Homo sapiens: one gene and its partner. The protein of the gene in region 1 purifies or fractionates together with the protein of each later gene. This does not show direct contact. Each region holds a gene or a part of one and is shown in the gene's direction. Other genes may lie near its edges.

Region 1 (3,500 bases):
TAATAAAAAAGAAAAAGTGGGCAAAGGACATGAACAGACACTTTTCAAAAGAAGACACACATGAGGCCAACAAACATGAAAAAAAGCTCAACATCAGTGATCATTAGAGAAATGCAAATCAAAACCGCAATGAGATACCATCTTACACCAGTCAGAAGGGCTATCATGAAAAAGTCAAAAACCAACAGATGCTGGTAAGGTTGCAGAGAAAAAGGAACACTTATACACTGTTGATGGGATTGTAAATTAGTTCAACCATTGTGGAAGAGACAGTGTGGCAATTCCTCCAAGACCTAAAAGCAGAACTACCATTCAACCCAGCAATCCCATTACTGGGTGTATACCCAAAGGAATATAAATCATTCTGTCATAAAGACACATGCATGTGTATGTTCATTGCAGCACTATTCACAATAGCAAAGACATGGAATCAACCTAAAGACCCATCAATAGTATGTTGGATAAAGAAAATGTAGTACAGATACACCATGGACTACTATGCATCCATTAAAAAAAAGAACAAGATCATGTCCTTTGTAAAAACATGGATGGAGCTAGAGGTCATTATCCTTAGCAAACTAATGCAACAACAGAGAACCAAATACTGCATGTTCTCACTTATAGGTGGGAGCTAAATGATGTCAACACATGGACACATAGAGGGGAACAACAACAAACACTGGAGTCTCTCAGAGGATGGAGGGTGGGAGGAGGGAAAGGATCAGAAAAAATAACTAATGGGTACTAGGATTAATACCTGGTTGATAAAATAAGCTGTACAACAAGCCCCCATGACACAAGTTTAGCTGTGTAACAAACCTGCACATGTACCCCTGAACTTAAAAGTTAAATCAAAAAGATACATTATATTTCTGAATAACTGAAAATTTAGTGTCTTGTATGCATGAAAAATATTTGTGCTAACAGACCTTAGATGATCCAACTCAACATACCCTTGGATTTAACTAAAAATATAACTATTTTCCAAGCTATTAATTATGATTTTTCTCTTTCAATAGTGTTGTTTGTTAGTGCTGAAAATGTTAACATATTGCTCTACAACCATGCAGAAGGAATTAATGAGCTTCTGTTGTCTTTTTTCATAAGCATATCTAATTTGCTCATTCATCCACTTGTTCATTTGTTCTACCCTTATTTAGCCAGGCAAAAGAGAGAGTGCAGTCATTCCTAATAATCATGATTTGTTTTCCTTTTTTCAGCCATGCGATGATGGACCTACTGGTTGAACTTTGCCTTCAGAACCACCTGAATCCATCCCACCATGCCCTTGAAATTCGGTCTTCAGAAACCCAACAACCTTTGAGTTTTAAGCCAAATACTTTGATTGGGACCCTGAATGTGCATACTGTGTTTCTGAAAGAAAAAGTTCCTGAAGAGAAGGTTAAGCCTGGTCCCCCTAAGGTGCCTGAGGTTAGTAGGTACCTACATGGAAATACCTGTGTCTGAATGTGTGGCAGGTCCTGAGTAGGGGCCAGTGTGGCTCTTCTTATCAAAGTACAGTGCAGAGAGCTGTGGCTGAGGCTGCTACTTTCATGCCAGGCAAAGCTAGGCACTAAACAGAGTTTGTTTTAGGAGACAAAATGTACACAATTGAATAATGTTTATTGTTGTAACATTGCTTCTTTATATATTATAGAAGAGGAATTGATCTACAGTGGAGCTATCCATTAGACCTTCATTCAAAGAGGGGCATGGTCTTTAATTCTGTACTTTCTTATATGATAGCCACTGGCTGCATGCAGCTTTTTTAAAAATTTGGTATGTTTATTATAACTTAAATATCTAAAATATTCATGTAGATTTTTCTTTTTTCATTTTAATTGACACAGCTTTTGAACACTTGAAATGTGGCAGGTATGATTGAGAAACTGAATTTTTAATTTAATTTTAACTTTAAATTTAAATTGCCACTAGCTAATGGCTACCTGATTGGACAGTGTAGTTCTAGAATTCTTCCTGACTCAGGAAGCAGTTGGTATCCATAGAAGATTTAAACATCTTCCCAGAGGAAGAGAAAAGAAAGGGAAAAAAACTTTTTTGAAAAACTGATGTCAGAAATATTTATTCATTGCATTTGGAGAATATCTTATATACATAGCTATATTCCAGGCTTTTGTTTATTAATTAAAATTAATTCTAGTAGCTTATTATATACTTTTATTGTTTTTGTTGTTGTTGTTTTGAGACGGAGCTTCACTCTTGTTGCCCAGGCTGGAATGCAGTGGTGTGATCTTGGCTCACTGCTACCTCTGCCTCCCAGGTTCAAGCAGTTCTTCTGCCTCAGCCTCCTGAGTAGCTGGGACTACAGGTGCATGCCACCACACCCGGCTAATTTGTGTATTTAGTAGAGACAAGGTTTCACCATGTTGGCCAGTCTGGTCTTGAACTCCTGACCTCAGGTGATCCACCCACCTCAGCCTCCCAAAGTGCTGGGATTACAGGCCTGAACCACCATACCCAGCTTTATTGTACTTTTAAATAAGGCTTTGATATTAATCTTTTAGCTAAAATTAAAAGCAATGTTACTTTCATATTCTTAGCAGACCTTCTAAATTTTCCTGCTTTTAAAAATGGTAATGCAGCCAACATTAATCTCCTATTAATTTCTAGGATTGATTGGTTAGTGCATTCTCACTGTTATCTGGAACACTCTGACCAGAGATTTCCCCTTATTCCTCAAGTAAACAGTGTTTGAGGCAGAGCATCTCTGTATATACCTTGCGTCTTCCCTTGACTTCCTGCTTCTCAGGGCAGGTGAGCCCAGGCATCTGCATGATTCCACTTGTTAGGGCAGGAGAGGACCAGTAAAGGAGCAGTAGGTTCCGTCTTTTCTCCCAAAATGCATTGTTATCCCAGCCACTGGGCCCTGGTACGCAGGCTGGAAGAGAGCGTGAGGCCTTCCTTTGCTGCTCTTTTGTTCAATCTACATTTACTGTGTCCAGCTCTACAGTGTCTTAGCACAATTAGAGTGATCAGTAAAAGCGGAAGAAAAATAATCAAAAAGTGGGAGAAAAATGACTACCACTTTATCTGCAGTCATTTAGAATTAGCATTAGTCAACTGAGTGTTTTTCTTCCTGATTATTATATATGCCTGGTGTTTTTTAAAATATATTTATAGCTTAAATACGTGTGTGTAGTGTGTATACATAAATACATGTAGGTCTGTGTACACACTGTATATGTTTCATATATGTGTGTATATAGTACATATATACAGTATATATGTATTTATATATATATATATCTATGTACATATATAGATATTCCTGTATTTATGTGGATATTTTGACTCCTTAAAACTTTGATGTCATGTTTTTGGAGGGTTTTTCTTTAAATTATTCATACTGCTTCCAAACTTTTTTTTTTAGAAAATGCATATAAGTGCCATGTGTTCACATCTGGCCAGAACCCTTGGAAGACAGTAAAGTATATGTGTTGGATTTTAAATGTAGAGTCTTCCCTGATGTTTATTTCGCT
Region 2 (3,500 bases), on another chromosome or scaffold:
AAATGGCTTCAGATGAATATTATCACAAGTAGGAGTTTCTTCATATAGTATGTTTAACATAATTGATCTCAGTGAACTTTCCAATATTTATTTATTTATTTATTTATTATTATTGTTATTATTTGAGATGGGGTCTCGCTCTGTTGCCTAGGCTGGAGTGCAGTGGCGTGATCTCGGCTCACTGCAACCTCCGCCTCCCAAGTTCAAGTGATTCTCCTGCCTCAGCCTCCCAAGTAGCTGGGATTGCAGGTGCACATACCCCCACACTTGACTAATTTTTGTATTTTTAGTAGAGACAGGGTTTCACCATGTTGGCCAGGCTGGTCTTGAATGCCTGACCTCAAGTGATCCACCCAGTTCGGCCTCCCAAAGTGTTGTGATTACAGGCGTGAGCCACTGCACCTGGCCTGTTTATTTATTTTTTGAGACAGGGTCTCACTTTATCGTTCAGGCTGCAGTACAGTGGCATGATGATAGCCCACTGCAGCCTCAAACTCCTGGGCTCAAGTGATCCTCCTACCTCAGCCTCCCGAGTAGCTAGGACTACAGGTGCTTGCCACCACACCTGGCTAATTTTTGTATTTTTTGTAGAGATAGGGTTTTGCCATGTTGCCCAGGCTGGTGTTGAACTCCTAGACTCAAGTGACCTGCCTGCCTTGGCTTCCCAAAGTGCTGGGATTACAGGCATGAGCCACTGCACCTGGCTCGATATTTTTTAAATTACTGAAATATTTTCAAAAATAAGTAAGCTTATTCCAAAGTAAATTTTTATACTTCACAGCACAGTAGCTCTCCCGCAGCAATTCATTAGCAGTCCTTTTGACACATTGTCCTTACCAAGGCTAGGAGCTCTGAAGGGAAGGAATTTACATTTATTGAGCACCAGTTGCATGCTTGCCACTCTGCTAGGAGCTTGTTCTCATTTTACAAGTCAACATCCTGTTTTAACTGAGAAATAGTACTGGGCTGGGCGAGGTGGCTCATACCTGTAATGCGAGCATTTTGGGAGGATGAGGTGGGAGGATTGCTTGAGCCCAGACGTTTGAGACCAGCCTGGGCAACATAGTGAGACCTCATGTCTACAAACAATTAAAAAAAAAATGCTAGCTGAGTGTGGTGGTGCACACCTGTGGTCCTAGCTACTGGGGAGGCTGAGGTGAGAGAATCACTTGAGCCTGGGTGGACAAGGCTCTACCAGCCTGGGAGACAGTGAGACCCAGTCTCAAAGAGAGAGAAAGAAAGAAAGATAGAAAAAAATAGTACTACAAGCAAAAAGACATAAAAATTTTATACTATTTATAATTACTAGTTATGTAGTATGCTTGACATATGTAACTCAAATAATGTTTTTTTCCTATGGCTAAGTACCATGTTTTGTGACTCTTGTTGTTGTGATGAAAAAGAAAATGGAACCTTTTATAAAATCTTTTGAGAAAATTTTATAGAATTGGGTTGGTTTTTTTTTTTTTTTTTTTTGAGACGAGGTCTCGCTCTGTCCCCCAGGCTGGAGTGCAGTGGTGCGATCTCAGCTCACTGCAAGCTCCGCCTCCCAGGTTCATGCCATTCTCCTGCCTCAGCCTCTCTGAGTAGCTGGGATTACAGGCGCCCGCCACCAAGCCCGGCTAATTTTTTATATTTTTAGTAGAGACAGGGTTTCACTGTGGTCTCGATCTCCTGACCTCGTGATCTGCCCACCTCGGCCTCCCAAAGTGCTGGGATTACAAGCGTGAGCCACCACGCCCAGTCTTGTTTTGTTTTTTGTTTTTTTTTTTTTAGACGGAGTTTTGCTCTTGTTGCCCAGGCTGGAGTGTGATGGCGTGATGTCGGCTCACCGCAACCTCTGCCTTCCAGGTTCAAGTGATTCTCCTGCCTCAGCCTCCCTAGTAGCTGGGATTACCGGCATGTGCCACCACGCCTGGCTAATTTTGTATTTTTGGTAGAGACGGGGTTTCTCCATGTTGGTCAGGCTGGTCTTGAACTCCCAACCTCAGGTGATCTGCCTGCCTCGGCCTCCCAAAGTGCTGGGATTACAGGCGTGAGCCACCGCACCTGGCGATTTTCTTTGAAACTTTAAGAAGAGCTTTGGAAATGAAATTCCGGGAAGTGCAAAAACAGCATTTCACAAATAGATGATGATATAAAGAAATTTTAGGTGTATTCATTGTAAAGAGCCTAGATGATGGGAATTGTTAGTTTCACTGTATATAGTTCTTGATCAGACCACACCTGGAGTGTTGTGCTTTATTATTTATTTATTTATTTATTTTGAGATGGAGTCTCACTCTGTCGCCCCAGGCTGTAGTGCAGTGGCATGATCTCGGCTCACTGCAAGCTCCGCCCCGGGGTTCACGCCATTCTCCTGCCTCGGCCTCCTGAGTAGCTGGGACTACAGGCGCCTGCCACCACGCCCAGCTAATTTTTTGTATTGTTAGTAGAGACGGGGTTTCACCGTGTTAGCCAGGATGGTCTCGATCTGCTGACCCCGTGATCCGCTTGCCTCGGCCTTCCAAAGTGGTGAGATTACAGGTGTGAGCCACCGCGCCTGGACTATGTTTTTTTTTTTTTTTTGAGACGGAGTCTTGCTCAGTCGCCCAGGCTGTAGTGCAGTGGTGCCATCTCGGCTCACTGCAACCTTCACCTCCTCCTGGGACTACAGGCGCACGCTACCAAGCCCGGCTAATTTTTGTATTTTTAGTAGAGACGGGATTTCACCATGTTGGCCAGGATGGTCTGGATCTCCTGACTTTGTGATCCACCTGCCTCAGGCTCCTATAGTGCTGGGATTACAGATGTGAGCCACCGCGCCTGGCCTATTTTGGGTTCTTTAGGAGGGGGATTAACAGATATTTAGAGGAGGATGACGGGAGTGGGAAGGGATCTAGAAGCTATCTTCTGGTGAAGAATGGTTTTTGTAAGGATCGATTAGACAATGAATGTAAGATCCTAAAATAGTACCCAGTAGTTTTTGCATTGTAAACAAAGCAGTTAATCCTGTTTTGGGGATTGTACTTTAGTTGGTACCTTTATAGATTAAAACCTTTGAGATCTAATCCTTTAATATGTATATATTTTTCATTTTCATAGTTCTTTTTTGCTTTAAAATTAAAAATTGAGCCAGGCAAGTTGGCATATGTCTATAGTCTTAGCTACTCAAGAGGCTGAGGCAGAAGAATTGCTTGAGCGCAGGAGTTTGAGGCTGTAGTGTGCTATGAACAGGCCCGGCAATAGCAACTACACTGTAGTCTGGGTAGCATAGTAAGACTCCTTCTCTTAAAAAAAAAAAAAAGAAGATACAAAATTAAAAATTGGCTGGGCATAGTGGCTCATGCCTGTAATCCCAGCATTTTGGGAGACCGAGGTGGGTGGATCACCTGAGGTCGGGAGTTCGAGACTAGCCTGGCCAACATGGTGAAACCCCGTCTCTACTAAAAATGCAAAATAGCTGGGTGTGGTGGTGGGCGCCTGTAATCCCAGCTACTCGGGAGGCCAAGGCAGGAGAA

The links. The genes of interacting proteins can lie anywhere in the genome.
Region 2: the proteins of COBL (region 1) and WDR47 purify together in Homo sapiens (affinity purification with mass spectrometry; 2 studies listed by BioGRID and IntAct, with this or other methods). This does not show direct contact.

What each region holds. Positions count from the first base shown.
Region 1 is NC_000007.14:51,191,310-51,194,809, reverse strand, and holds part of COBL (protein cordon-bleu), read left to right. Parts: intron 1-1,220; coding exon 1,221-1,431; intron 1,432-3,500.
Region 2 is NC_000001.11:109,035,603-109,039,102, reverse strand, and holds part of WDR47 (WD repeat-containing protein 47), read left to right. Parts: intron 1-3,500.